Linked DNA regions of Homo sapiens: regions 2, 3 and 4 are each linked to region 1. The links come from fine-mapping of genetic effects on gene expression. A gene starts in region 1. Each other region holds a variant in brackets. All regions are shown on one strand. Distances are from middle to middle. Region 1 holds the start of GPR162 (G protein-coupled receptor 162). Region 2 holds the start of CD4 (CD4 molecule). Region 3 has its middle 13 kb from the start of MLF2. Region 4 overlaps CD4 (CD4 molecule).

Evidence for each region.
Region 2: its variant is fine-mapped to the expression of GPR162 in whole blood (TOPMed, PIP above 0.99).
Region 3: its variant is fine-mapped to the expression of GPR162 in whole blood (INTERVAL, PIP above 0.99).
Region 4: its variant is fine-mapped to the expression of GPR162 in whole blood (INTERVAL, PIP above 0.99).

What each region holds. Positions count from the first base shown.
Region 1 is chr12:6,817,924-6,826,050 of GRCh38, reverse strand. It overlaps GPR162 (G protein-coupled receptor 162), which reads right to left and starts at 4,230. Exons shown (of 5, transcript NM_019858.2): 1 at 4,151-4,230; 2 at 1,286-2,583; 3 at 378-567. The coding sequence starts at 2,152. CD4 (CD4 molecule) reads right to left here. Exons shown (of 10, transcript NM_000616.5): 8 at 7,509-7,630; 9 at 7,137-7,204; 10 at 5,252-6,752. The coding sequence ends at 6,722. RefSeq lists enhancers at 4,247-5,219, 6,190-6,690, 6,691-7,191.
Region 2 is chr12:6,788,440-6,796,566 of GRCh38, reverse strand. CD4 (CD4 molecule) reads right to left here and starts at 7,039. Exons shown (of 10, transcript NM_000616.5): 1 at 6,905-7,039. RefSeq lists enhancers at 3,968-4,017, 7,133-7,182, 6,998-7,555. The variant C/A (reference allele first, on the strand shown) is at 3,731.
Region 3 is chr12:6,737,219-6,744,006 of GRCh38, reverse strand. No RefSeq gene overlaps it. Among named protein-coding and RNA genes, the nearest start is that of MLF2, 13 kb to the left of the region's middle. The variant A/C (reference allele first, on the strand shown) is at 2,161.
Region 4 is chr12:6,797,561-6,805,687 of GRCh38, reverse strand. It overlaps CD4 (CD4 molecule), which reads right to left. Exons shown (of 10, transcript NM_000616.5): 2 at 5,501-5,616; 3 at 5,217-5,381. The coding sequence starts at 5,549. Among named protein-coding and RNA genes, the nearest start is that of CD4, 12 kb to the right of the region's middle. The variant G/TG (reference allele first, on the strand shown) is at 4,172.

The DNA.
Region 1 (8,127 bases):
TGCGTTCAGTGCTAAATCCTGAGTGGAGTGCTTCATACATATAGATGAAGTTATTGAAACAATTGCCTGCACTCCCCCAAGAGCCGTCCCTATAGCTGGGGGGCCTCTCTCGGGAAGCTCAGGTTCCCCATAGTGCCAGAGCTGGGCAGTGTGGGTTTCTGGAGGGGAGCCTAGGCCCAGTGAAGGGAGCCCTGAGTGCTGCGGGAAGCAGTGAGTGGACAGCAGGGTGCCTGCTTAGGGAAAGGGGAGCCCAGGGTGGTGCAGATTCTGTCCAGTAGGGGGCACTCCAGGGCAGCCCATCCTCTGGCTGAGAAGGAGCGGCAGAAAAGGGAATAGACAGATGTCCAGGAAAGCCAAAGCCCAGCCCCTCCTCTGACCGTCATCTCCATCCTCCTCAGACATGATGGCCACGCATTGCTCCCACACTGTGCGCACGTCGGCGCGGTAGCGCTCGCAGGACCAGATGAAGGAGGGCAGCAGCAGCGTCTGTGCCATGGAGCACCACAGCACAGCCAGCACCATCCAGGGGGGCGCCGAGTCCGACTTGAGGGAGAAGAAGCTCACCACCTGGGGAAGGGTGGGAGCGGGCTGGGTCAGGGCCAGAGCTGAGGAGCCCACCTGAACCCCATATCCTAGTGCAGCTGGTGGGCAAGACGTCAGAAGTAATGCCTGATCCCTGTGCTCCAACAGAGGCGAAGCCGGAGGTGGAGATGGAGTGAACAGAGGGAAGGGACTGACTCAGAGGAAGGTCGGGGAGAGTGCTGGAGACAAAGCCCTGCGGTCAGGAGGGAGAGGAACAGAGGTGGACCAGGAACCGTAGAGACAGACAGGAACCCAGGAACAGTGACTAGATGGGGTGGTGGGGTGAGCCCTGTGGGATTTCCAGCCAAGAGTGCTCAGAGACCATGTGGCAGCCCGAGGGAAGGAGGGAATGGAGAGTGGAGCCCAGCGGCTGGATGAGAGGTCTGCGGCTGAACCGTGGAGCTGCAGGATGGATGACGGAGCTGGAGGACAGGTCGTGGAACTGAAGGACGGTGATGGAGCTGAGGAGTGGGAACTGAAGCAGATGCTGGAGCTGGGGTAAACAGGGTAGTGGGAACTAAAAGACAGATGATCAAGATGGGGGCCACAAATGGAGTGGGGGATGGACAGAGGAGAGGAAGATGGATGATGGAACTGGAGGAGAGATGACGGAGCTGCTGTATGGCTGATGAAGTTGGAGGTCAGGTGATGATGCTGGGGCCTGGATATTGGGGAGAACAGGTGGGGAGGACCCCGATCTCACCAAGATGGGCACCCCTGTGAGTGAGTCATAGAGAAAGACGATGGCGCTGACCAAGTTGGTGACCTGCAGGGATGTCTTGGCAGACTCCGAGCCATCCAGCGAGGACCGCCGCTTCCCTCGGGCATCCTCCACCACAATGGCTGGTACCTCAAAAGCTGGCCGGGTACCCAAGGCCCCTGGCCCACCCGCTTTGGTCCCCCCACCACCCCCCACTCTCCGGGCCTGCCGAGCCCTCCGGGGCCGGGCCCACAGTGTCTGGTAGAAGGTGATGGCCACACAGACCAGACCCATGACAATTCCCCCAAGTAGCAAGAGGCTGAAGCAAACGCCAAAGCCGAGGCCGATCTTGGAGACTATGAACTGGCAGCCGCGGGCATAGTAGCGCTCGCCGTTGTTGTGCCAGCCAATGGAGGGCAGTGTGGAGAGGATGAAGCTGACCATCCAGATGCCCATGACGGCATGCAGTGCCTGCTTCTTGGCGTTGCTGAGGCGGTAGTTGACGGGCCAGCGCACCATCCACATGCGATGGTAGGAGAGGGAGGCGACCGTGAAGCAGGTGGCCAGCGCCAGGGTGTAGTAGGTGGACACGAAGACCTTGCAGATACTCTCGTTCCAGTCATAGTCGGAGGAAGCCTGACGACGCAGCTGCACCACGGCAAAGGTGGTGAGGGGCACAGCTGCCATGAGTATGTGTGTGCCCGCTAGGAAGCAGAGCAGCAGCTCCAGTGGCTTGTGCTTCTGCTGCTTGGCCGAGATGCTGAGGATGATCCAGGCATTGGCCAGCAGCGCCAGGAGCCCACAGGCCAGCCAGGACAATGCGTTGGAGCGCAGGGAGGCCTCCTCTGCCCCCGCCCCGCCCCGAGCCATCCTATCCTCAGCCCCCCACCCCCTTGAGCTCTGTGGGGGTGGGGGCTAGGTCTCACCCAGGAGCCCCACTCACAAACACTCCCATGATCCCCACAATCCTCGCCCTGTCAGCAGGCAGGCTGCCCCCAGGCTCACCCCAGTGCTCAGCATTGCATGATGGACCCAGCTGAGGGCAGATGTAGAGGGCAGGGGAGGAGACTGAGGGTCAGCAGAGGCAATCCTCAGCTTTCATACTGGGCGGGGCCTTCCTTAAGCATCCCTGCAATTGATGGGGCAGGCAAGCTGGCTACTTTCCCAACTATGAGGCTGGCTGGGGGGTTCTGGTCCCCATGCTGGGACTTCCAGGTCTCTTTTGCCTCTGGTTCTTGACCAGTCAGGAATCTTCTGGATGCCCCAGGGATTTGGGGGTGGGGCTCAGCCCCCTGGACAGGCTGCAAGGGAAAGATGAGATGTGGGAGGGAGAGGGCAAAGGTAGGGCCTGGGCTGGTCTCCAATCAGCCTCCTGTGCCCCCTTTCTTGAAACTATAGGCATGACTGATTACTAAGGCCCTGAGGGTCATTCAGAACATTCCTTTGCCTTAACTCTGACAGCTAAACACCCCACACAGATGAGAGCCGCACTCTTCCAGACCTCTAGGGAAGAAGGTATTCCCACCTCCCTGTCTCCTTTAGCCCTTCCTCCTCCCGCTGGAACTCCCAGGTTCCTTCTTAGAACATCCCCTGCTCAGCACTACTCCACCCCTATCTTCAAGTCCCTAAATGTCTCTTCAGAACTACTGATGGGAGACACAAGACTGGTTTCCTCTTGAGGGTTCACAGTGAACTGGGATATGGCATCACAGCCTTCCTCCCCTACCTGCCGGTCTCCTGGATGCAGGGGTCTTGGTGCTTAGCCCCTACTTCCCCAAACCTGGGTGATCACCCTCCAGCTACCCATATCTGGGAAAATGGGAGAAAGGAGTCTGGGACCGAAGGGGGTGCTAGGGAACCTGAAGGCGGGGAAACCGCTGACATCAGAAGCATCCAGAAATGGAAAGAGGGGGAACTAGGGAGAAGGAGGAGAGTTTGAGCAGAAGAGAAAGAGGGGGCAAAGTGGTAGTATCTGAAAATAGCAGGAAAAGCTCAAACCCCCTGGAGAGGAGGCTTTGGAGGGAGGAGGGACTGGAGGAGGGAGGGAGGGAGGGAGCAGGGAATAGGAGGCTGAGAAGAAAAGCCAAATGTTCAATAAGGTGCTGACTCCCCGTGGGGAGACCTTGACTCTTCCTCCCTGGCCCAGAGCCTCAGTTTCCCTCTCATGGGAGGAAGGATGGTCCCAGTTTTAGTGCGTGATGCTGAGCTTCAGTGAGCCCTGGGAAGGGGGGTAAGGGAATCGGGTGAAACCCTGAACAGAGTGGGGCTGTAAGGAAGCACATAATGGCTTTAGGGTAAGTGGGGTAAAAATGGGGCACAGCAGTGAAAGGGTCTGTTTCCCATGGAAGCAGCTCAGACCCTTGCTTTCCCCAAGAGGTCCTGGTCCACCCCCACCCTTGGCTTCCCTCCGGAGCCCAGTACACCCTAGTTGCCATGGCAATGGCCAGCCAGAGGGAGGTGGAGGGACTTGGCCAAGAGCAGCCCCCAGTGTCCTCTCCTACAGCCCTGGACCCCTTCCCACCCACCTCCACCCAGGCCCAGCTGGTGGGCTCAGGATGAAAGAGATAGGGAGTCAGAGAGGGAAGGAGGCAGGAAAGATGTGAAGGACAGAGAGAGGGAGGTGAAGGACAGGGAGAGATCAGAGGAAGGTGGGAAGGGGGATCTGGGAGGTTCCCTGGCCGACGGGGTCCCTCGCCCTTTGGGGTGAAGGGGTAAGGTCAGGCGGCTCCTCCCTCCTGTCCCCCTCCAGGTTCTCCAGGGCAGAAACAGCAGGTGGCTGGGGAGGAGGGGCCGGCCTAGGGGAGAGGAGGCAGCTTGAGGGGGAAAGGGAGGCAACACAGGGGACGGGGCAGGCAGGGGTCGTCTTACCTCTCTCCGGCTGCGCCCAGCACTGCCATGGAGACCGCACTCCCGACGCGGCTCTCTCGGGCTCCCGCTGCCTGCCGGCTCCAGCTCGCCCGCCCTCCTCCCTCCTTCCCTCTCTCCCTCCCTCCCTTCCCCCGGGCCTCCCTCCTCCCCCTCAGTCCCGGCCTCCCAGGCTCAGCCCACGGCTCACTCGGTCTCTGCCCCTCTCACTCTCCAGGACCCTCTCTCCCGGGGTCGTCCTGCCAGTGAGCCCAGGCCAGAGGGAAGGCAGGACAGCTTTGTGGGGGGCGGGGGGGGGCGGGAAACGAGTGCAGGGTGGGGAACTGGACGGTGGTGACTCGGGGAGGAGGGGCAAGGAAGGCGCTGAGAGGGAGGGCGGTGAGGAGGATGGCTGGGAACCGGCTTCATTGGTGAAATGGTTCATGTCCTGCCCCCACCCCTTCCCGTTTTCAACACGAACACAAGCTCCAAGAGGCAGCTGGTGTTGTTGGGGACTGAGGAGCTAGCTGTTCGGGGAGGAGGAAGCGTGTGTCACTGTGTGTATCTGTGTGAGGGCTGGGCCTTGGGTTTGGGAGTGAGGGGGCTTGTGGTGCACACTGGGGCTGCTTGTGGAGTTGGGGGTGGTTGTGCACAAGCTAAAAGGATGTGGGCGCATGCATGCACACAGACACACACACTCTGCCTCCTCCTCCTGGAACACAAACACATATGTTGGGGATACAATTTGCACACACATGTTACAGTTTCTCATAGTCCTTTTTCTCTGCCACACACATACACCAGGAGAGCTCACACAACCCTGAGTCTCTCCCCCACGGTATATCACACACATGTAATTACAGAGTCTCAGCCTCACACACACACAGGCCCACACAGAGCCCTGTGGGTTGTGGAGGTGGGTAGCCAGCCTCCACAGAATTTTTCCCTCTCCAGGGAAACTTCATCTCCTTCCTGGGGCACGCCCAGCAACCTCTCCTCTGGGTCCGACCCCAAAGACCAGAAGATTCCTGGTCCCCAGAGAAGGGGTCTCTCTCTCTCTCTCTCTCTCACACACACACACACACACACACACACACACACACACACACGAAGAGCATCTTTATAGTAAGTTTATTGTATTTTTATTTCAGCTCAGGGGAGCAGGGGTGGAGAGTGGGCACAAATGCAAAGTAAGCAAATGGGGAGCCCCAGCAGCAATAGGGGGGTCTTCCTGGAAGAGGCAGGCTTTAAAGACAGGAGGAGAAGGAAATAGGGAAAAGGAGTTGGGACTGAGGGAAGTGGTGAGGAAGGGTAGGAAGAGAGGGGATCCTGAGAGAAGTGGATCAAGAAGATTTGTAACCCTGATTTCCCTGTGTCCTGAATGGTCTGGAGGAGGGTAAGGGAGGGTGTGGGGCAGGCGCAGAGCCTGGCACAATCACCTTTGAGGTCCCTTAGAGGGTTCCCTCTCAGGCTAGCTACCCCCTCTCCCAGCAAAGCTCGCTTCCAGGAGGTTCTGCACAGGGTCAGTGACTGGTCACTGGGCATTCTCTCCTGCAGTGCCTGTGCTCCCAGCTTGCGCTCTGATTAGAAGAGCCAAAGGCTTTGTCCTCTGGTAACAGATTCTGCCACCAGCGGGGGATGAAGGAGGGATTTTAGACAGGGAGGCCTTCATCCCTGCTCGTAAATTCTCTGAGATGGACCCTTCCCATGGGTGCTGTGCTTCTGTGAACCCAAAAGTACACATTGAGTACCCACCACTAGCCACTGGTGAGAGCCGTGTGGCATTTGTCCCTGCATTCAAGAGGCAGCAGTGGAACTTGGGACAAGGGACCTGGGTTAGTCCCGACTCCAGCACTTGCTAGTCCGGCACTTGGTAATCAATCATCTAGCCTCTCTGAGCTCTGGTTCTGGTCTATAAACTGGAGATGATCATCTTAGTTCTGTCACTGCCAGCCTTGTAGGATTTTTCTAAGTCTCAAATAGACAGAGGATGTGAGACATCCCTTGAGGCCGTGTACATGGGGCTGTGTCCAGAGGGGCTGTTTGTGCAAGGTCAGGATGTGAGTCTGTGGTCCCACCCACATAGGGTGAGAAGCGGGCAGCATGGGGCAGGAGGTACTGGCTGCCAGAAACCTCTGGATCTGCATCCATCCTTGACTGGCTTGGCTGTGTGATTTTGTGCAAGTTCCTGCCCTCTGTGGTCCCAGGGTCCTGTCTTGTAAAAGAACAGTCCCATGCTCCATGCTTCCAGACACCCAGCCTCACCCTCCATGCCAGCCAGGGCTGGCCCTGAACACTCCCCTGGGATCCAAATGAGCAGTGGGGAGAGGGTCAGAGAGAAATAATGAGAGAAGGGCTAGGCTTGAAGGAAAAGGAAATGGCGTGGAGGACGGTGTGATTAAGCCTCTGGAAACTAGAGAGCAACACTCAACCAGTGAAGCCGGGGCCTAACCCAGGAGAAACAATGGCAAATTGTAGAGGAGGCGAACAGGAGGCCAGAGGCTGGGGATCTGCTACATTCATCTGGTCCGCAGGCAGGAAACGCGGGGCAGACACCTGGGGAGGCTGCAAGTGGGATCTGCCTGGCCTCGTGCCTCAAATGGGGCTACATGTCTTCTGAAACCGGCTGCAGGAACAAAGAAGAAGGGGAGCAGGTCTGTCCCCACTGCAACCCCTTTGCGTTCTAGCACCTCCAATGGCCTTTCCAGCGCAGCACAGCTCCAGTGGCTTTCCAGCAGGGCCTTTCCTGGCCTGCTGCTCCTTCAGCTCCATCCTCCCACTTCTGCCTCCTTCTAGCTCCTGGCCATCTTTTCCCACCCCTCTATCCTCTCCACCACACCCCTTTAGCCCCCATCTCCTCACCTCCACCCCTCCCAGCTCTTCCTCCTCAACTCCTTCCTCCTCTCCATCCTCCCTTCCTGCCCCCCTTTGCTCCCCTTCCTCCCCCTCCTCTCTAACTCCCTCCCCCTCCCCCTTTCCCCTCTCTCAACCCCTCCTCCCAGATCCTTACTGAGGACACTGGCAGGTCTTCTTCTCACTGAGGAGTCTCTTGATCTGAGACATCCGCTCTGCTTGGCGCTGTCCAGGGACAAGAAAGGGAGTCACGAGGGTCCCAGGCCTCCAGAAGGGAGGTGCCCCTTGGTGGGGGGAGTGGGGGAAGCTGCGACAGGAGAAGCAGTTACATGGCCCAGGCCATCTATCCTGGAATTAACTCTCTGCTCCTTCCTGTCTCTCCCTTGAGTGGGATCTGGGACAGGGCAGCAAGGGAACTTACGAGTGGGCAGAGGGAGCTGGGCCAAAATCAGTTCCCATATACAGGATCTCCTGGTAGAGGACTCAGGGGTTTGAGGGCCTTGTGGGGACCAGGTGTGGGGTTACTCACCCTTCGGTGCCGGCACCTGACACAGAAGAAGATGCCTAGCCCAATGAAAAGCAGGAGGCCGGCGACGCCCCCCAGCACAATCAGGGCCATTGGCTGCACCGGGGTGGACCATGTGGGCAGAACTGCAAGGGAGAGAAATGTGCTCAATGCACCGCCCTCCTCCACGGGCCAGGGGACTGAGGACTGCCCTGCAATCCCTCCTGGCCAGTCTCTGGTTTGACCCTGGGGTTGGGGGAGAGGGGAGGGGTGCCTGGGGGCTCTCAAAGGCCGCCAGTGCTGGGGAATCGGTTTTATGTTTGGGCATATCCATATCCAGGGCACTCTGGAGAGAGAGAAGCTGTGGTCTGGCTCCTGGGCTGTGTGTGTGAGTGCATGTGTGTGTGCATGTGTGAGTGTGTGCATGTGTGTGCGTGTGTGAATGGTGTGAATGTGTGTGTGTGCGCGCGTGTGCGCGTGTGAGTCCATGTGTGAATGTGTGTGCGTGTGTGCATGTGTGTGAATGTGTGCCTGTGTGCGTGTATGAATGTGTGTGCGTGACTGCATGCATGTGCGCGCGCGTGTGTGCACATGTGTGAATAATGCGTGTGCGGATGTGAGTGTATAAGTGTGTGAGTGTACG
Region 2 (8,127 bases), 29 kb after region 1:
AGCAGTGATTATAGGAAAGGCACCAAGATAGCACCTCAAAGGAAGGCTGGAGCAGGGCTCAAGTGTCTTTGAATCCAGGCCTAGGATATAAAGTGGGCTCAGAGAGGTGACTGCCTGGGGAAGGTGTCACCATGGACCTGGCCCCTGCTGGTGAGACAAGATCTTGCCTCCAGACTTACTCTGTCTTCCAAGCTTGGTCCTTCTTTCCCCCAGTGGCATCTTTGCCGTTGAAGCTTGGTGACGATCTGCCTACTCTGAAGTCCCACAGCACCCCGTTGACATGCTCCTGGGTGTGTTCCACCTTCTACTTTGTGTATAGTGATTTGGTTTCTCAACTCTCCTCCTCTAGCTTGAGCCCCTTGAGGACAGAGATGACAGTCTAGCCAGCTGTGTGGCCACCACAAGCCTGGCAGCAGCTGAGACATAGAGAGAGGACTTGGTATGGCTTTGGCTAACTTAAGCCAAATTGAATTGTATGGAGGAGCGAAAGTCACTGATTTCTTCTTTCTCTATTCACCATATTAATTCTGTTTCTAAAACGGGTCACTGAAATGTATGCACACATCCAGCCCAGCCTGGATGAAGCCCAGTCGCCCCAATCCAAGCTGTTCATCCCCACGGGGCCCTGCCAGCCACTCTCCATCCTGTCTGTGGCTCTCCACCAAGGGGCTGACAGCCACACATGGCTCATAGGCTCTCTTGCCCTCCAGCACCAGTCGGGGCTGGCCAGTGGGAAGTGCCTTTCAGAGATGAGATGGAAGGGTGGGGGAAAGAAGCTGGGATATTTTTCCTACTCTATCCCTGCCCTGGGCATATTTTCTGTCAATAGCTGTGTGTTCATCCTCACCTGCAGCCCTGCCCCTCCACAGCTTCTGTGGGGTGGCCCCTTATCCAGAGTGCAAGCACTCTCTGGGTTCCAGAAACACCATTTTCACTTCTTCAGGACTCTTCCTGCTGTTAATAGTGTCTGTGCTTCAAATTGATTGATTCCCTTAACCTATGTGAATAACCCCCTTTCTACAATCTCTTGAACCATGGGAGGTGGACTGTGTTTCCTGCTGGGCACTAAGACACAATCTGTGGAGAGGAATGGGGCACTCAGAAGGTGTGGGGGCTTGGTCCTCTTACGGTGGTTTAGGAGAAGATAAGAAAAGTGACTCCATCTTTGTTAGCTGCCTCCAGTTACTCCATCTGCCTGGAAGAGGAGGTAGCCAGGGCTTAATACGTGGTAGGTGCTTGAGATAGACAGGTAGGTAGATAGATGGATGGACAGATAGATAGATAGATAAAATAGATTAGATAGACAGATTAGATAGATTAGATGATAGATTGATAGATTAGGTAAATAGATTAGATAAACATACAGACAGATTAGATAGATGATGAATAAGATAGATAAAATAGATTAGGTTAGACAGAAAGATAGATTAGATAGATAGATAGATAGATAGATAGATAGATAGATAGAGACAGACATTTAGGGACAGACACAGTGGCTCACACCTGTACTCCCAGCACTTTGGGAGGCTTAGGCGGGTAGATCACCTGAGGTCAGGAGTTCAATACAAGCCTGACCAACATGGTGAAACCCTTCTCTACTAAAAATACAAAATTAGCCGGGCACAGTGGTACGGGCCTGTAATCCCAGCTACTCCAAAGATTGAGGCAGGAGAATCGCTTAGAACCCAGGAGGCGGAGGTTCAGCAGTGAGCTGAGATCGCGCCACCGCACTCCAGCCTCGGCGACAGAGCAAGACTCTATCTCAAAAAAAAAAAAAAAACAAAAAAAAAACAGACATACAGACAGATAGATTAGATAAATAGATGATAGATAAGATAAACAGATAAAATAGATGAATTAGATTAGACAGTCAGACAGACAAGATAGATATATAAGGCCGGATGCAGTGGCTCACACCTGTAATTCCAGCACTTTGGGAGGCCAAGGCAAGTGGATCACCTGAGGTCGGGAGTACGAGACCAGCCTGGCCAACATAGTGAAATCCCATCTCTACTAAAAATACAAAAATTAGCTGGGCATGGTGACGCACGTCTGTAATCTCAGCTACTTGGGAGGCTGAGGCAGGAGAATCACTTGAACCCGGGAGGCGGAGGTTGCAGTGAGCCGAAATCACGCCACTGCACTCCAGCCTGGGCAACAGAGCGAGACTCCATCTCAAAAAAAAAAAAGATAGATATATGTCCAGGCACGGTGGCTCACGCCTGTAATCCCAGCACTTTGGGAAACCAAGGTGGGTGGATCACTTTAGGTCAGGAGTTGGAGACCAGCCTGGCCAACATAGTGAAACCCTATCTCTACTGAAAATACAAAAATTAGCCAGGAGTGGTGGTGGGTAGTCCCAGCTACTGAGGAGGCTGAGGTAGGAGAATCGCTTGAACCCGGGAGGCGGAGGTTGCAGTGAGCCGAGATCGTGCCACTGCACTCCAGCCTGGGTGACAGAGTGACTCTGTCTCAAAAAAAAAAAAAGATAGATAGATCAATAGATAAGATAGATACATAAAGATAGATAGACAGATATAGATAGATTAGATAGATAGGTGATAGATAGATAGATAGATAGATAGATAGATAGATATAGATAGATAGAAGCCGGGTGTCGTGTGTGGTGGCTCATACCTATAATCCAGCACCTTGGGAGGCCGAGGCAGGCAGATCACTTGAGGCCAGGAGTTTGAGACCAGCCTGGCCAACATCATGAAACCCCCGTGTCTACTAAAAATACAAAAAAATTAGCTGGGGATGGTGGCGGGCGCCTGTAATCTCAGCTACTTGGGATTACTTGTAGTGCCACTGCACTACAGCCTGGGCGACAGAGTGAGATTTTGTCTCAAAAAAAAAAAAGATAGATAGATAGATAGATAGATAGATAGATAGATAGATAGATAGATAGATAGATGATAGATAGATACAATTTTGTTTAAACCGGGGAAGTAGGAAGAAAAGAGGTCAGGAAGGAGGTTTCTGAAAAAGGAGGAAGGGAGACTAGCCACCAGTGATGGTGAAGTGTTTACAGGTTAGCATGCAGATGGGAGGCATCTAGGGGAAGGCTGCAGTGAGAAGAGTAGAATAGGAGTAGCCTCATACCAAAGAGTGGTTCCCACTGTCCCCCATCCCAGACTGACTGGGTCCTTGGTGAGCAGGGGATGAAAGAGGGGAAGTCTCCATAAACGATATCCCTTCTCTGGGGTCCAAATTCAGCTTACCCTGATAAGATGCCTGGGGAAGACTAGAGGCATTCTTGACCCTTCCCCATATGGTGGCTGTTTTGACTCCCCCAGCTCCATGGTCCTGAGGTATGTGCAGACAGCCACCTCCCTGCCTCCAGCTCCCTGTTCTGCCTCATCTCACCCCAAGGCTCTGCTAAGTGGAGGAGGCTGTGGGTTTCCAGCATGCTTGCTTTGGTGCTTTGGGCTTCCGCTGCCACCCCAGAGATCTGGCCTTTGATTCCCATACTCAGCGTCCCCAGAGGTGTCTTACCCTAGTACGGTAGCATCCTGTATACCAGCACTCCGAGAGAGGCTGGGAGGGCTCTCTGGTCCCTCAAGCCCTGGCACGTCTCTCTCTCTCTTTCTGTCTCTCTCTCTCCCTCCTTGCTTCTCAGCTCACATCTGTGCATTTCTGTATCTATGCTTCCCAGCCCCCAGCTTATGCCCCCAGCCTGCAGCTCCCTGTGTCTGTGTCTGTCTTCCTCTTTGCCTCATATACCAGG[C/A]GGCCGTGCTGGCTCTCCCGGGCTCCCCTGGAATGCCCCTTGCCTCTTCTCCTTTTTCAGCTTCCCCTCTCAGGCTGCCACTAAGCTCTAGCTCCTTCCGGTCTGTACACAGTCCTCCTGGCCTTTGGCAGCAATGCAGACCCTGGACAAGCTTTGATCTGTGGGGAGCCTGCCGAGCACGCCTGCAGCCCAGGGTGGATGTGAGGGAGCCGGCTGCAGGGTGGGAGGGACACATGGACAAAGGGAAATGGACAGAGTTCCCCAGAATGCACAGAGCCTCAAGGGAGGAGGGGAGGGAAAGATGTGGGAGAGAGAGACCTGGAGCAGCTTGTTAAAGCAACAGCTATGCACACACAATCCACAATCACACACAAAGCGCAGGGTAGTACAAAAAAAGAGGAAAAGAAGAAATTCTGAGAAGCAAGACAGATGCACAGAGCATAGATCCAAAGTGAGGCAAAGAGAGACTGAGAAAGAGAAGAGACCAAAATGGCAACACACACCACGCACTTTCTCAGAGCCTTGAGGTTCCTGCCGCCCTCACCCCTGGCCCCCAGGGATGGGATGAGGGGCGAGGCTTGGGAGGGTAAGAGGGCCCAGCTCCACCACAGCGAGAGTCTGTGGTCCCACAGGCACTTTTATCTTCTCCCCATAACCCCCAAGCAGCCCACTCAAGCCCAGCCGCGGGATGTGCCCCACCGCGTTCACCCTCTCTACTGCTGACTAGCTTCCTATAAACTTCCTAGAGACTGTGACCCCTCTAAGGAACTCTTGTGGTTGGTGGCTGCAACCTCCGCCATCCTCTTCTTCGCCTCAGACACCCACATCGGGGGAACCGTGCCCACCCTCCTTCCCTCATCCCCTCAAAGGTACAGAACAGAGCTCAAACTCAGAGCCTTGCAAACCCAGACCCCTGCCCACCTACTTCTGATTCCCCACCTTCATCAAAGTTATTTTGAGACAGGGCCTCACTCTCGCCCAGGCTGGAGTGCAGTGGCACAGTCAGGCCTCACTGCAGCCTCCGTCTCCCAGGCTCAAGCAATCCTCCCACCTCAGCTTCCCAAGTAGCTGGAACCACAGGCACACACTACCATGCCCAGCTAACTTTTGTGGGGTTTGTAGAGATGGGGGTTTCACCATGTTGCCCAGGCTGGTCTCAAACTCCCAGGTTCAAGCCATCCTCCTGCCTCGGCCTCTCAAAGGGCTGGGATTACTGGTGTGGGCCACCACGCCCGGCCCATCACAGGTATTTCATTCAACAAACATTTATTGAGTGTCTAAAATGTGCAAGACTGGCCCAGTATGGTGGCTCACGTCTGTAATGCCAGCACTTTGGGAGGCCAAGGCGGGCGGATCATTTGAGGCCAGGAGTTTGAGGCCAGCCTGTCCAACATAGTGAAACCTGGTCTCTACTAAAAATACAAAAAGTAGCCGGGCGTGGTGTTGGGCTCCTGTAATCCCAGCTACTCAAGAGGCTGAGGCAGGAGAATCGCTTGAACCCAGGAGGTGGAGGCTGCAGTGAGTGGAGATCACGTCATTGCACTCCAGCCTGGGCAAGAGAGCGAGACTCCGTCTCAAAAATAATAATAAAAAATAAAACGTGCAAGACAATTGGTCTAGCCAATTGCCCTCAGCACCACCCCGCCATTACGGCCAGGGTCAGAGCCTAGGGCTGCCCCCAAGCTCTGTCTAGCACCAGTGGTGGGAGGAGTTTTTATCTAGATATAGACCTCTCCTATGTAAGTGCTCCCACATTGAAAGAGGGAAATCATCTCCCGAGTGTCTCTAACGCTGTCCTCAGGGGCTCTTTCATCTGACTTTGAGGGCGGCGGCCATTTTGTATCAGCCTACAGCATCTGATACAGCACAAGGAATTATTGGTCAAAATGTGAAGTAGCAGTGACTTCCCCCATCAGGCCCTGCTCTTAGCCTTGCCCCGATAAAAATGTCCACCACAAGAGCAGGGCATTCAGGAAGCACTATCCCACTCAGAGTGAAATCTTTGAATTATTGAGAACAGGGCCTTTCCGTTTTGAGGGATCAGAACGTACCCCAGGAAACCTCTCTCCCAGAAGAAGCCTATGAGGGGAAAGCAGAGGACACTGGGGATAGCACGGCTTCAAGGCCATGAGGTCTCAGGGGCTGGAAAGGTCTGAGGGCGGAAAGGCTGAGATGGCACAGGGCTTCCCTTCAGGAGGGACAGTGAGTCCTCACTCTCCCTCACACCCTGCCAGGCCCAGGAGGGGCTGCACATCCTTCTGTAACTCTCCCGGCCTCATGAGACCCCTACCACCAATTCTTTTCGAATCCGTTTCTTAAATGACATATTTATCTAAAGATATGTATCTGCAACTTTTAGGGCAATTCATACGCAAAAGCTCAGTTTCAACACTTTCTGAGAATTTTAGCTTTCCTATTTCATGAATCATTTTAAAGCTAACTAGAGTAGAAGTGCCTTTAGACATTGTTCAAAAATCTTAAAAGAGCAAAGAAGCAGACAAAAATTTAAAAATACACACAGAAACACAAAAGGTAGTTAAAAGAGACTATTACATAGATCATGCGACTTATGAAATGCTGCAAGTATGATATTTGGTGTCAATTTTTGGAGATTGTCCCGTTAAGGAAAATTGGTTTTGCAAGAATTTTCTCTAGACTAGATTCCACTTCTTTTGCTCTTTTTCTTGTTTTTATGTTTTTCCTCATCATTTCTTTTTTATAGGTTTCCTCCCACCTTATATTTATTTATTCTTTCTAATTTTTTCCCTCCCCTTCTTCACTCTTTTTCTCCTCTTTTCCCCTCTTCCAGTCTTCTCCCCTCAACTGCCCACGACTAGTTGCCTTCCACGCCTTTCCCAGCCTGGGATAGTCTCCAGTCTTCACTCCCTCTCTGATCTTGCTATTTAGGTCACTACTCCTCTAAGGAGCACCCATTGCTCTGGACACTGAGCTGTGCACGCTGGGGCTGCAGAGAGGAGTCTAGCACAGTCTCTGACCTCTGGAAGCTCACAGTTCCAGTGGGAAATCGCTGCTCATGACCAGTTCCAAGAGAAATGCAAGAGAAGGTGGCCAGAGCTGTGGGCAGACAACTGGGCAGAGCACATTCCTGTGCATCTGCCCCACGTTCCCCTCCCTCTCAGCTCCGGGGAAGGAAGCCGAGTCTGACCACCTTACCTCTGGGCTTGCGTCTTTCTTGCCCGCTGCTTCTCAAACAGGCGTATCTGTGTGAGGACTTGGAGCTCTGCAACCAGGAGCCCAGTGGGGAGGGTGCTTTGTTCCTTCTGCAGAGTCGTGCTTAAATGAAGAGAGACAGGAAGCCCGATGGCAAGGCTCCTCCACACCCTAGGCCTGGGCCGGCCCCAAACGTCACCAGCTGGAGCTGGGTTCCCCACCCCCCAGGCTCTCAGGGAACATGTCAAAGTGAAAATGCCAAAGTCAAGGGAAAAAGTTAAGCAGAATCAGGCTTAAATCAGGAGTCAAACTGTCACTGCCACTGTTAAGCGGCAAGAAAAAGATGGCAAGAAAGATTCCATTAGTGGTAGCGCCATGTCTGACCAGGCTGTGGGGAAAGAAGTGGGAGGCAGTTGGGGGCATATGGGAACAGCAGTGGTAAGCCCACAAACAGCTCCTTGCTCTGGGGCCCTGAGGGCATGTGTCCAGTGGGTGCCCCAGGGGTATCTGTGGAGGCTTTATAGGTGGCCCAGTGTGGAAGAGAGGGCGTGGGCTGAGCAGAGAATATCTGAGACACCAGGAGTGACTGTTAACCAGGCTCTGTTCCTCTAGGCGTCTCTGGCCAGGCCTCAGGTGCTTTCCTCTAGCCCGAATCTACCATGAACTCTCTATGTGAGTATCCGTCTGCCCATTGGACATCTCCACTGGGAAGCTCACCGGACATAGCAAACTCAACACACATCCCCAACTATGCATACCACCTGCATACTACCACCCTCCAAACCTGCTTCTCCAGGCTTCTCACTCAGTGAGGGGCTCACCATCCACCAACTTGCCCAAGCAAAATAAATTGGGTGTAATCTTTGACACCCCCTTCACCCAACTTCTCCCACGTATTTATTTACCAGTTCCTGTGGATGTTACCTTCTAAATGGCTCCAAAATCTACCCAAGTCACTCTGCACTACCACTACTGCCACCATGCCAATCCAAGATGCCAATATCATCCCTTGCTCGGACAACAGCTCCTGCCTCCTCACTGGTCGCCATTCTCCATACCACAGCCCAAGTGATCATTTAAAGATGCACATGTGAGTGTGCGTTTTCCAGTCTGAAAAAAGTGGGGCTGGGAGTGGTGGCTCATGCCTATAATCCCAGCATTTTAGGAGGCCGAGGTGGGGGGATCGCTTGAGCCCAGGAAGTTGAGGCTGCAGTGAACCGTGATTG
Region 3 (6,788 bases), 81 kb after region 1:
AGCAGTTTGGGAGGCCGAGGCGGGCGGATCACGAGGTCAGGAGATCGAGACCATCCTGGCTAACACGGTGAAACTCTGTCCCTACTAAAAATACACACACACACACAAATTAGCCAAGTGTTGTGGCAGGCGCCTGTAGTCCCAGTTACTCAGGAGACTGAGGCAGGAGAATGGTGTGAACCCGGGAGGCGGAGTTTGCAGTGAGCCGAGATCGTGCCACTGCACTCCAGCCTGGGGGATAGAGCGAGACTCTGTTTCAAAAAAAAAGAAACAGAGCAGAGATACCTTGGGAAAAGCCAAGATGACACTGAGGTGGTGTATTAGTCCATTTTCACACTGTTGATAAAGACATACCCGAGACTGAGTAAATTATAAAGAAAAAGAGGTTTAATGGACTCACAGTTACACATGGCTGGGGAGGCCTCACAATCATGTTGGAAGGCAAAAGGCACGTCTTACATGGCAGCAGGCAAGAGACAGAATGAAAACAAAGCAAAAGGGGTTTCCCCTTATAGAGCCATCAGATCTTGTGAGATTTATTCACTACCACGAGAATAGTATGGGGGAAACCACCCCTATGATTCAATTACCTCCCACCGGGTCCCTCCCACAATACGTGGGAATTACGGGAGCTACAATTCAAGGTGAGATTTGGGTGGAGACACGGCCAAACCATATCAGATGGGAAATGCTTTGGTGAAAGTAAACAAAGCTGTGTTCCTAGAGCACCACTGGTGACTTCAGATAAAGATGTTATGTATTTGAGGTGGGGGAATTCACAATTCACAAGGAATATGGCAGGGAAGAACAGAAGCCGATTCCCAATACAGATGAATCTTAATTTCAGCAAGCCCAAATATGTCATAAATGACAATTTCAGACTTAAAAAGAGACCTTAGAGATCATCTGCTCTGGAAATTCCCAAATGTGGCAGTAGGTCTGCTTTCAGACATACTAAAGCCGAATGTCAGGGTTGGAGATGATTCAGATGCCCCTTATCAGTCATTCCAGATATCATCAAAACCCCCCTTTCCATTTTCTTCTGAAGAAACGGAGAAGTGATTTGTTCAACATCATACAGCTATCTGATAGTAGCACAGAGAGAGCCAGGACTCAAAACCTAGATTGACAGAAATGATACTAATATGCTGTATGGAATGATTCACCATAGAAGTCCTTTAAATAGAAAATTTCCTGCAGGGCGTGGCAACTCGCACCTGGAATCCTAAACACTTTGGGAAGCTGAGGAGGGAGGATTGCCTGAGCCCAGGAGTTCGAGACTAGCCTGAGCAACATGGTGAAACCCCATCTCTACAAAAACAAAAACAAAGCCGGGCGCGGTGGCTCACACCTGTAATCCCAGCACTTTGGGAGGCTAAGGCAGGTGGATCACCTGAGGTCAGCAGTTCAAGACCAGCCTGGCCAATATGGTGAAACCCTGTCTCTACTAAAAATACAAAAAATTAGCTGGGTGTGTGTAGGGACCAGCCCCACAGGGTCGGTGGGTCTCTCCCTGTGTGCGGTGATGAGAGAGCATAGAAATAAAGACACAAGACAAGGAGATAAAAGAAAAGGCAGCTGGGCCCGGGCGACCACTACCACCAATGCGCAGAGACCGGTAGTGGCCCCGAATGTCTGGCTGCGCTGTTATTTATTGGATACAAGGCAGAAGGGGCAGGGTAAAGAATGTGAGTCATCTCCAATGATAGGTAAGGTCACGTGGGTCACGTGTCCACTGGACAGGGGGCCCTTCCCTGCCTGGCAGCTGAGGCAGAGAGAGAGAGAGAGGAGACAGAGAGAAAGACAGCTTACGCCATTATTTCTGCATATCAGAGACTTTTAGTACTTTCACTAATTTACTACCGCTATCTAGAAGGCAGAGCCAGGTGTACAGGATGGAACATGAAGGCGGACTAGGAGCGTGACCACTGAAGCACAGCATCACAGGGAGAGGGTTAGGCCTCCGGATAACCGCGGGCCAGCCTGACTAATGTCAGGCCCTCCACAAGAGGTGGAGGAGCAGAGTCTTCTCTAAACTCCCCCGGGGAAAAGGAGACTCACTTTCCCGGTCTGCTAAGTAGCGGGTGTTGTTCCTTGACACTTTTCGCTACTGCTAGACCACCTCCCAGGTTCAAGTAATTCTCCTGCCTCAGCCTCCTG[A/C]GTAACTGCAATTACAGTCGCATGCCACCACGCCTGGCTAATTTTTTATATTTTCGGTAGAGATGGGGTTTCACCATGTTGGCCAGGCTGGTCTCAAACTCCTGACTTCAAGTGATCTGCCCACCTGGGCCTCCCAAAGTGCTGGGATTACAGGCGTGAGCCACAGTGGCCGGCCTGCTTTGTGCATTTTAAAGCGCTTTAGTTAAATGCATAGACATTTAGAATTATTGTATCTACTTGGAAAACCAAATATCTTATTATGTAATGTCTTTTTTGTTTTGTTTTGTTTTTTTTGAGACAGAGTCTCGCTCTGTCACCCAGGCTGGAGTGCAGTGGCATGATCTCGGCTCACTGCAACCTCTGCCTCCCAGGTTCAAGTGATCCTCCTGCCTCAGCCTTCTAAGTAGCTGGGATTACACGCCTGGCTAATTTTTTTGTATTTTTAGTATTGATGGGGGTTACACCATGTTGGCCAGGCTGGTCTGGAACTCCTGACTTCGTGATCTGCCCACCTCGGCCTCCTAAAGTGCTGGGATTACAAGCTTAAGCCACCAAGCCCAGCCAATGTCCCTCTTTATCTCTGGTAATTTTCTTTGCTCTGAAGTTTAGTTAACTGTTACTACAGCCATTTTCAACTTTCTTTTGGTTAGTGTTCATGGTACGTGTTTCTCCATCTTTTTACTTTTAACCGACCTATGTCATACTTAAAAGTATTTGTTTTCTTTTTTAAGACACTGTATTTCTGGGTCTTTTAAAAAAATTATTTTGGCCGGGCGCGGTGGTTACGCCTGTAATCCCAGCATTTTGTGAGGCCGGGGTAGGCAGATCACGAGGTCAGGAGATCGAGACCATCCTGGTTAACACAGTGAAACCCCATCTCCACTAAAAATACAAAAAAAATTAGGAAGGCGTGGTGATGGGCGCCTGTAGTCCCAGCTACTCGGGAGGCTGAGGCAGGAGAATGGCGCGAACCGGGGAGGCGGAGGTTGCAGTGAGCCGAGATCGCACTACTGCACTCCAGCCTGGCAACAGAGTGAGACTCTGTCTCAAAAAAAAGAAAAAAATTATTTTGATATTTTTTTAAAATAGAGATGGGGTCTCTATTCACTGTGTTGCACAGGCTAGTGTCAAAATCATGGGCTCAAGTGATCCTCACGCCTCAGCCTCCCAAAGTGCTGGAGTTAAGAAGTGAGTCTTTTTTTTTTTTCTTTTTTTTTTTTTTTTGAGACAGGGTCTCACTCTGTTACCCAGGCTGCAGTGCAGTGGCACAGTTACAGCTCACTGCAGCCTTAACTTCTCAGGCTCAAGCAATCCTCCCAACTCAGCCTCCCAAGTAGCTGGAACTACAGATGTATACCACCAGCCTATCCGTCTTTTAATTGTAGTTAGGCCATTTAAATTTAATATAATTGCCCAGGTGTGGTGACTCACACCTGTAATCCCAGCACTTTGGGAGGCCAAGGCGGGAGGATTGCCTGAGGTCAGGAGTTCGAGACTGTCCTGGCCAACATGGTGAAACCCTGTCTCTACTAAAAATACAAAAATCAGCTGGGCTTGGTGCATATGCCTGTAATCCCAGCTACTCGGGAGGCTGAGGCAGGAGAATAGCTTGAACCTGGGAGGCAGAGGTTGTAGCAAGCTGAGATCGCGCCACTGCGCTCCAGCCTGGGCGACAAGAGTGAGACTCCATCTCAAAAAAATAAATAAATAAAAATAAAAAATTAATATAATTAGTATGTTTGCATTTATCTCTTTTTTTTTCTTTGTTTCTTTCTTTCTTTTTTTTTTTTTGAGACAGAGTCTCACTCTGTTGCCCAGGCTTCAGTGCAGTGGCACGGTCTCGGCCCACTGCAAGCTCCGCCTCCCGGGTTCATGCCATTCTCCTGCCTCAGCCTCCCAAGTGACTGGGACTACAGGTGCCCGCCACCACGCCCGGCTAATTTTTTTGTATTTTTAGTAGAGATGGGGTTTCACCATGTTAGCCAGGACGGTCTCGATCTCGTGATCCACCTGCCTCGGCTTCCCAAAGTGCTGAGATTACAGGTGTGAGCCACCGCGCCCGGCAATATTTCTATTATTTATTATTTATTTTGTTTGTTCTGTTTGTAATTTCTCTGTCTCCATTTTCCAGCCTTGTATTGGTTTACTTGAATGTTATTTAGTATTCCATTTTAATTTATGTACAGATTTTTTTCACCCAGTAAATCTCTGTATCATTTTCTTTTCTTTTTCTTCATTTTTTGAGTCGGAGTCTCGCTCTGTCGCCCAGGCTGGAGTGCAGTGGTGTGATCTCGGCTCTCTGGAAGCTTCGCCTCCTGAGTTCACGCCATTCTCCTGCCTCAGCCTCCCGAGTAGCTGGAACTACAGGAGCCCGCCACCACGCCCGGCTATTTTTTTGTATTTTTAGTAGAGACGCGTTTTCACCGTGTTAGCCAGGATGGTCTTGATCTCCTGACCTCGTGATCCGCCCGCCTCGACCTCCCAAAGTGCTGGGATTACAGGCTTGAACCACCGCGCCCGGCTTTTTGTTTTGTTTTTTGTTTTTGAAACGGAGTCTTGCTCTGTCGCCCAGGCTGGAGTGCAGAGGCGCGATCTCGGCTCTCTGCAAACTTAGGCTCACTGCAACCTCCGCCTCCCGGGCTCAAGTGATTCTCCTGCCTCAGCCTGCCGATTAGCTGGGACTACAGGCGCCCACCACCATGCCCAGCGAATTTTTTTTTTTTTTTTTTTTTTGAGACAGAGTCTCGCTCCTGTCGCCCAGGCTGGAGTGCAGTGGCGCGATCTTGGCTCACTGCAAGCTCCGCCTGCCGCGTTCACGCCATTCTCCTGCCTCAGCCTCCCAAGTAGCTGGGACTACAGGCGCCCGCCACCACGCCCGGCTAATTTTTTTTTTTTTTTTTTTTTTTGTATTTTTAGTAGAGACGGGGTTTCACCGTGTTAGCCAGGATGGTCTCGATCTCCTGACCTCGTGATCTGCCCGCCTCCGCCTCCCAAAGTGCTGGGATTACAGCCGTGAGCCACCGCGCCAGGCCTAATTTTTGTATTTTTAGTAGAGACAGGGTTTCACCCTGTTGGCCAGGATGATCTCGATCTCTTGACCTCGTGATCTGCCCACCTTGGCTTCCCAAAGTGTTTGGATTACAGGCATGAGCCACCGCGCCTGGCTTTCTTTTCTTTAGTGGTCGCTCTAGGACAGGCATTGGTGACATCTCGCCTCACTGCAACCTCTGCCACCTGGGTTCAGGCAATTCTCCTGCCTTGGCCTCCTGAAAAGCTGGGATTACAGGCGCCTGCCACCTCGCCTGGCTAATTTTTGTAGTTTTGGTGGAGGCGGACTTTCACCATTTTGGCCAATCTGTTCTTGAACTCCTGACCTCGTGATCCACCCGCCTCGGCCTCCCAAAGTGCTGGGATTATAGGCAAGAGTCACTACACTGGGCCGGCAAACTTTTTCTGTAAAGGGCCAGATACAATAAATATGATGAGCTTTGTCAGCCATACAATGTGTGTTGCAACACCCAAATCTGATGCTGTAGTGCAAAAGCAACCATACATGATATGCAATGAATGAGGTGTAACTACAGTCCAACAAAACTGTATTTACAAAAACAGGCAGTGGGCTGGATTTGGCCTGTGGAATATGGTTTACTAACCCTTACTATGGGGATTACAAAATACATACTTTTCACAATCAGAGTTTTTTTCTACCACTTCAAGTTAAATGTAGAAATTTTACCACAACATAGCTCCCTTTACTGTCTCATCTCGTAGTTCTCATATGTGTTACTATAAATGACAAACACCACATACTACAAATACTGAAACTCCACATACTAAACGCTAAAAATGCTTAGTTCTAGGTGAATTTATCTATTGATTTTTAATTTTTGAGACAGGGTTTCACTCCTGTTGCCCAGACTAGAATGCAATGGCACAATCTTGGCTCACTGCAACCTCTACCTCCCAGGCTCAAGCAATTCTCCTGCCTTAGCCTCCCAAGTAGCTGGGACTACAGGCACAGGCCACCATGCCCCACTAATTTTTTTTGTATTTTTTATAGCGGCGAAGTTTCACCATGTTGCCTAGGCTAGTCTAGAACTCCTAGGCTGAAGAGATCTGCCCATCTCAGCCTCCCAAAGTGCTGAGATTATAGGTGTGAGTCACCACACCTAGCCTTCTAGGTGAATTTATTTATTTCTTGAGACGGAGTTTCACTCTTCTTGCCCAGGCTGGAGTGCAATGGCGCGATCTCAGCTCACTGCAACCTCTACCTCCAGGTTCAAACAGTTCTCCTGCCTCAGCCTCCCAAGTAGCTGGGATTACAGGCATGCACCACCACGCCCGGCTAATTTTTGTGTTTTTAGTAGAGACAGGGTTTCACCATGTTGGCCAGGCTGGTCTCCAACTCCTGACCTCAAGTGTTCCGCCCGCCTTAGCCTCCCAAAGTGCTGGGATTACAGGCGTGAGCCGCGGTGCATGGCTCTAGGTGAATTTATAATTGTTTTAAAATTATATTTAGAGAATTCCCTCTTGAGACAAACATCAAATTTATGATTTTCTTTCAGCTGTCATAAACATTTTAAAGAACTTAAGAGGAGAAAAATAATCTATTATATTTACCATTGCTG
Region 4 (8,127 bases), 20 kb after region 1:
AATCCATCAATCCATGAGTACAGCATGTCTCTCCATATATTTAGATCTTCTTTGACTTCTTTAATCAGCATCGTGTAGTTTTTAGCATACAATTCAATGCTTTCTTTTTTCTTTTTTTTTTTTTCGGGAGACAGACTCTTACTCTGTTGCCCAGGCTGGAGTGCAGTGGAACAGTCTTGGCTCACTGCAACCTCTGCCTCCCGGGTTGAAGCAATTCTCCTGCCTCAGCCTCCAAAGTAGCTGGGATCAGGCATGCGCCACAACACCTGCCTAATTTTTGCATTTTTAGTAGAGACGGGGTTTCACCATGTTGGCCAGGCTGGTCTCAAACTCCCGACTTCAAGTGATCCGCCAGCCTCAACTTCCCAAAGTGCTGGGATTACAGGCATGAGCCACTGCACCTGGCCCTACGCATGTTTTTTAGATTTACACCTAAGTATTTCTTTCTCTCTTTCTTTTTCTTTTCTTTTCTTTTCTTTTCTTTTTTTTTTTTTTTTTTTTTTGAGATAGGGTCTTGCTCTCCTACCGAGGCTGGAAAGCAGTGGTGTGATCATGGCTCACTGCAGCCTTGCCCTCCTAGGGCTCAAGCAATCCTCCCACCTCAGCCTCCCCAGTAGCTGGGACTACAGGCATACACCATAATGCTCAGCTAATTTTTTTTTTTTTTTTTTTGAGACGTAGTCTCACTGTGTCACCCAGGCTGGAGTGCAGTGGCACAATCTCAGCTCACTGCAAGCTCCGCCTCCCAGGTTCACGCCATTCTCCTGCCTCAGCTTCCCGAGTAGCTGGGTCTACAGGCGCCTGCCACCACATCCAGCTAATTTTTTGTGTTTTTAGTAGAGACAGGGTTTCACCGTGTTAGCCAGGATGGTCTCGATCTCCTGACCTCATGATCCGCCCGCCTCAGCCTCCCAAAGTGTTGGGGTTACAGGAGTGAGCCACTGCACCCGGCCATGCTCAGCTAATTTTTTACTTTTTGTAGAGACAAGGTCTCACTATGTTGCCCGGGCTGGTCTTGAACTCCTGGGCTTAAGCAATCTTCCCACCTTGGCCTCCCAAAGTGCAGGAATTACAGGTGTGAGCCACCATGCCTGGCCTTTTTGAGCAATTATAAATGGTATTGTAGTTTTAATTTCTGTGTACACATGTTCCTTGCTAATATATAGAAATACAATAGATTTTTTATGTTTATCTTATATTCTGCAACCTTGATGAATTCATTTATTAATTCTAAGAAGTTTCTTACAGATTCTTTGAGATTTTCTATGTAATCATGTCATCCACAAATAGGAACAGTTTTATTTCTTTCTTTCTGATCAGTTTTCCTTTTATTTCATTTTTCTTGCCTTATTGCACTGGCAAGGGATTGCAGTATTATGTTGAATAAGAGTAGTAAGAGCAGACATCTTTGTCTTATTCCTGCACTTAGGGAGAAAGAATTCAGTTTTTCACCATTAAATATAATGTTAGTTGTAGTAGGGTGGGTCTTTTGCATTGTGTGTGTGTGTGTGTGTGTGTGTGTGTGCTTTTTATTTTATTTATTTATTTATTTATTTATTTATTTATTTATTTATTTTGAGACAGAGTCTTGCTCTGTCGCCTAGGCTGGAGTGTAGTGGCGCGATCTCAGCTCACTGCAACCTCTGCCTCCTGGGTTCAAGTGATTCTCCTGCCTCAGCCTCCCAAGTAGCTGGGACTATAGGTGTGTGCCACCACACCTGGATGACTTTTTGTATTTTTAGTAGAGGCAGGGTTTCACTGTGTTAGCCAGGATGGTCTTGATCTCATGACCTCATGATCTGTCCACCTCGGCCTCCCAAAGTGCTGGGATTACAGGCGTGAGCCACCACTCCTGACCTTTATTTACTTATTTATATTTTATTTATTTATTTATTTATTTTTTGTGATGGAGTCTCACTCTGTCACTCAGGCTGGAGTGCAATGGCACGGTCTCAGCTCACTGCGACCTCCGCCTCCTGGGTTCACGCAATTCTCCTGCCTCAGCCTCCTGGATAGCTGGGATTACAAGTGCCCGCCACCACGCCTGGCTAATTTTTTGGTATTTTTAGTAGAGACGGGGTTTCACCGTGTTAGCCAGGATGATCTTGATCTCCTGACCTCGTGATCCGCCTGCCACAGCCTCCCAAAGTGCTGGGATTACAGGCGTGAGCCACCACGCCCGGCCCCACAAGCAATTCTTATAATAACACCTTTCCATAGATATTATTAAGTGTTCACTGGTCAGGCGTGGTGGCTCACACCTGTAATCCCAGCACTTTGGGAGGCCAAGGTGGGTAGATCACTTGAGGGTAGAAGTTCCAGACCACCCTGGTCAACATGGTGAAACCCCATCTACTAAAAATGCAAAAATTAGCCAGACATGGTGGTGCACACCTGTAATCCCAGCTGCTCAGGAGGCTGAGGCAGGAGAATCACTTGAACCCAGGAGGTGGAGGTTGCAGTTAGCCGAGATCATGCCACTGCACTCCAGCCTAGGCGTCCAAATGAGACTCTGTCTCAAAAAAACAACAAAAAAGAATATTCACAATTTTATTTCTGTCAAGTAGACTTTCCAAAATAGCTATTATTAGGTCCAAGGGTTTTAGAGTTTTGTATTCGTTAAACATTGCCAGATTACTTTAAATAGTTAGTCTAGGCCGAGTGCGGTGGCTCACACCTGTACTCCCAGCACTTTGGGAGGCCAAGCCGGGCTGATCACGAAGTCGAGAGATTGAGACCATCCTGCTAGCATGGTGGAACCCTGTCTCTAATAAAAAAATAAAAAAGTTAGCTGGGCATGGTGGCACGTGTCTGTAGTCCCAGCTACTCGGGAGGCTGAGGCAGAATTGCTTGAACCTGGGAGGCAGAGGTTGCAGCGAGCTGAGATCGCGCCATTGCACTCCAGCCTAGGTGACAGACCGAGACTCCGTCTCAAAAAAAAGAAAAAAAGTCTAATAATTGGTAGTCTCATTATGATATAACTTAAGGAAGGAGTAGGAAAAAAGGTATATACAGTATGATATCATTTACGTAATTATGTATATAATATTCTCCACGCCGAACAACAGTGGAAGAAAATAGGCCACATGCAGTGGCTCATACCTATAATCCCAGCACTTTGGGAGGCCAAAGCGGGAAGATCACTTGAGCCTAGGAATTCAAGACCAGCCTGAGCAACATGGTGAAGTCTCATCTCTACAAAAAGTAAAAAATTAGGTGAACATGGTGGCGTGCACCTGTAGTCCCAGCTACTGGGAAGGCTGAAGTGGGAAGATCACTTGAGGCTGTGATGTGTTGTGGTCATGCCACTGTACTCCAGCCTGGGCAGCAGAGTGAGACCCTGTCTCAAAAAGAAAAAAAAAAAAAAAGATTGGAAGAAAATCAATCAAAATGTTAGCAGAGGATATCTCTGAGTGATAGAAGTATGCATGCATTTGATTTTCTTCCATATTCTTTTCTTCATTGACCAAATATTTTGTAATGAGCATATAATAGTTTTAAAACCAGGAGAAAAGGCCAAGTGCAGTAGCTCATGCCTGTAATCCCAGCACTTTGGGAGGCTAAGGTGGGAGAATCACTTGAGGTCAGGAGTTCAAGACCAGCCTGGCCAATATGATGAAAACCGGTCTCTACTAAAAATACGCAAATTAGCCGGGCATGGTGGCACACGCCTGTAGTCCCAGCTACTCAGGAGGCTGAGGCAGGAGAATTGCTTGAACCTGGGAGGCAGAGCTTGCAGTGAGCCAAGATCATGCCCACTGCACTCCAGCCTGGGCAACAGATCGAGAGTTTGCCTCAAAAAAAAAAAAGTAGAAAAAAATGATTCTGGGCCGGGCACAGTGACTCACGCCTGTAATCCCAGCACTTTGGGAGGCCAAGGAGGGTAAATCACGAGGTCAGGAGATCAAGACCAGCCTGGCTAACACCGTGAAACTCTGTCTCTACTAAAAGTACAAAAAATTAGCCAGGCATGGTGGCATACGCCTGTAGTCCCAGCTACTCGGGAGGCTGAGGCAGGAGAATCACTTGAACCCGGGAGGTGGAGGTTGCAATGAGCCAAGATCACGCCACCGCACTCCAGCCTGGGCGACAGAACGAGACTCTGTCTCAAAAAAATAAATAAATAAACTAATAATAATAATAATAAATNTGCAGCTTTTTTTTTTTTTTT[G/TG]AGATGAAGTCTTGCTCTGTCACCCAGGCTGGAGTGCAGTGGTGCAATCTCAGCTCACTGCAGCCTTTGCCTCCCAGGTTCAAGCGAGTCTCCTGCCTCAGCCTCCTGAGTAGCTGGAAGTACAGGACTGCACCCCCACACCTGGCTAATTTTTGTATTTTTAGTAGAGACCGGGTTTCACCATGTTGGCCAGACTGGTCTTGAACTCCTGACCNCCGGTGATCTGCCCACCTCAAACTCCCAAAGTTCTGGATTACAGGTGTGAGCCACTACAGCCGGCCTTTTTTTTTTTAATTAAAAAAATTTTTTTTGGCTAGGCATAGTGACACACACCTGTAATTCCAGCACTCTGAGAGGCCAAGGTGAGTGGATCACTTGAGCTCATGAGTTCGAGACCAGCCTGGCCAACATGGTGAAACCCTGTCTCTATAAAAAATACAAAAATTAGCCTGGCATGGTGGTGCATGCCTGTAGTCCCAGCTACTTGGGAGGCTGAGGTGGGATGATGACTTGAGCCTGGGAGGTGGAGATTGCAGTGAGCCGAGATCACACCACTGCACTGGAGCCTGGGTGATAGAACTAGACCTTGTCTCCAAAAAAAATATATATATATTTTTTTTCATAGAGACAGAGTCTCACTATGTTGTTCAGGCTGGTCTTGAACTCCTGGACTCAAGCAATCCTCCGGCCTCAGCCTCCCACAGTGCTAGGATTATACATATGAGTCACTGTGCAAAGTATTATCTACATAGGTCTGTAGCAACAATACTCAAGAAATCACGGGTTTTAAGTGATAGTGATTGTTCTAAAACTCACTAAAATAAGTTCATGAATATTAAATATTAAAATATTGAAATTCACATACCACCTTTCCCTGGGCCACCAGCAGTTGGTGTAGAGAAACTCTGGATAAGAATGCCACTGAGTTTCTGTCAACCCAAGCCCTCTGGGATCCCAGAGTTTAACTAAGACCAGATCTCAGACACCAAAGGCTTTCACTCCATAGTGTGTTTTCCTCCCTGGATGGGGAGCCAGGCAACCCTACCTTTAGTTAAGAAGGAGCCCTGATTTCCCAGAATCTTTATCTGGTTGGAGTTTTTCCAGTGGAATTGTATGCTCTTCTTCTGGGAAGCTGTACAGGTCAGTTCCACTGTATCCCCTTTTTTGCCCAGCACCACTTTCTTTCCCTGAGTGGCTGCTGGGAGGAGCGCTAAGTGGAAAAGAAAGGAGTCAGGTCTCAATGTCGCCGCTGTCCCCCTCTACCCCATCCTCCACCTTTGCCTTTCCTCCCACGTCATCTGCATTGAGACCCCAGGTCTGAGAACTTACCCAGTTGCAGCACCAGAAGCAAGTGCCTAAAAGGGACTCCCCGGTTCATTGTGGCCTTGCCGAGGGAGGCAGGGGCCTGAGCCAGTAGGGACCTGAGCCCACAGAAATGGCAGGGCCTGAGGGAAATGCCAATCATTAGTCAGCAAACATTTACTGGACCTGGAGTATACAGGGGCGATACACAACCTCTCCCTCAGGACCCTTGCAGCCAGCCTAGTGAACTTGAGGCAGGAGAATAGCAGAGGGAATTGGAGGTTGGATTAAGGAAGGAATGAGTAGGAGCAGAAGCAAGAGAAAGAGGCAGGTGAGCAAAAACAGAAGATAAATAAGTGAATAAGGAGCCCCATGGCTGGCTAGATCCAAACCAAACCAGTTAGGAGCAGCTCCTAAGAGATGGGCATATACTAGGCTGGGTGCGGTGGCTCATGCCTGTAATCCCAGTGCTTTGGGAGGCCGAGGTGGGTGGATCACTTGCGGTCAGGAGTTCGAGATCAGCCTGGCCAACATGGTGAAACCCCATCTCTACTAAAAATACAAAAATTAGCCGGGCGTGGTGGCATGCACCTGTAGTCTCAGGTGCTTAGGAAGCTGAGGCAGGAGAATCACTTGAACCAGGGAGGAGGAGGTTGCAGTGAGCCAAGATTGCACCACTGCAAAAAAAGATGCACATGTACTACAGAGAAAAGATATCCTCAAAATGACCCCGTATAGTAATTAGCTACTTAAGGTTCATGCCTACAGAGTGCATATCATGCATGTACTTAAAACTATGGGAAGGAAATGACACGTAAACACACAGAGGCCAAGAAACTAAGCAACCCACCTGTCAACCAAAAGGCACATGCTGGCTAAAGCTTAGGCAGCTTGAGGAAAAAGAGAAAAAAAACACATAGAAAAGGCCATGAAATATAGCAAAGTGATGCTGATACCATTCGCAGGTCATCCTTGATCCATAGTGGATCGTACTGTGCTTAATAAACTTTTGCTGCTTTGCTATTTGTGTGTGTCATGTCCAATTTTTTGTTTGCGGCACCAACAACTTGGGACTTCACAACATCAGCCAGTAACAAAGTAAACTTGCACACCCCTAACTGGATGCTCTGAGATACACACCACGAAATGCTATGCTCAGGCCAGGAGGGGGTTCTTTGCTGGGATGAGTGAGGAGGGGATCAGAAAAGGATGCATGGAGAAGGTGGCAAATTGGCGGGGAGACCATGGAGCCAGGCCAGGACGTGGAAATGCTTGAAGGCCGTGCTGAGATGCTGGGACTGGATCCTGGGCACTAGAGAGCCAGCAGAGGATTTTCTATAGAGAAGAAGATTATTAGATTTGCCACGTGGACCCCTGCAGCTGCTGAGTGAAAGAACTGGAGGAGGCGAGGCACCAAAGGCAGAACTGCAACCATCCTGGTCAGCAAAGGGCCTGAGCCAAGTGGCTGTAGAAATGTGTGGGACAGTTCTAAGGTGACGTTCCCAAGAATTGGGGCCTGATACAGCGTGAGAGGTATGGGGAAAAGAAAGAGAGATCAGATTGTTACTGTGTCTATGTAGAAAAAGGAAGACATAAGAAACTCCATTTTGATCTGTACTAAGAAAAATTGTTCTGCTTTGAGATGCTGTTAATCTGTAACTTTTGTCCCAACCCTGTGCTCACAAAAACATGTCCTGTATTGAATCAAGGTTTAATGGATCTAGGGCTGCGCAAGATGCACTTTTAAAAAGTTCTTGCCTCACACGTGTAATCCCAGCATTTTGGGAGGCCAAGGCGGGCGGATCATGAGGTCAGGAGATCGAGACCATCCTGGTGAACACGGTGAAACCCCATCTCTACTAAAAAAATACAAAAAAATTAGCCGGGCGTGGTGGCGGGCGCCTGTAGTCCCAGCTACTCGGGAGGCTGAGGCAGGAGAATGGCGTGAACCCGGGAGGCAGAGGTGGCAGTGAGCCGAGATCGCGCCACTGCACTCCAGCCTGGGCGACAGAGCAAGACTCTGTCTCAAAAAAAAAAAAAAAGAAAAGTTCTTGCAGGCAGTGTGCTTGGTGAAAGTCATCACCATTCTCCGTTCTCTATTAACCAGAGACACAATACACTGTGGAAGGCCGCAGGAACCCCTGCCCGAGAAAGCCTAGGTATTGTCCAGGTTTCCCCCCACTGAGACAGCCTGAGATATGGCCTCATGGGAAGGGAAAGACCTTACAGCCCCCCAGCCCGACACCCGTAAAGGGTCTGTGCTGAGGAGGATTAGTGAAGGAGGAAGGCCTCTATTCGGTTGAGATAAGAGGAAGGCATCTGTCTCCTGCTCGTCCCTGGGAATGGAATGACCCGGTGTAAAACCGATCATACATTCTATTTTGAGAGAGGAGAAAACTGCCTTATGTCTGGAGGCGAGACATCATGGCGGCAATACTGCTCTGTTACTCTTTACTACACTGAGATGTTTGTGTAAAGTTAAACATAAATCTAGCACATCCAGGCACAGCACCTTTCCTTAAACTTATTTATGACACAGAGTCTTTGCTCATATGTTTTTCTGCTGACCCTCTCCTCACCTTCACCCTATAGCCCCACCACATTCCCCTCGCGGAGATAGTAAAGATAGTGATCAATAAATACTGAGGGAACTC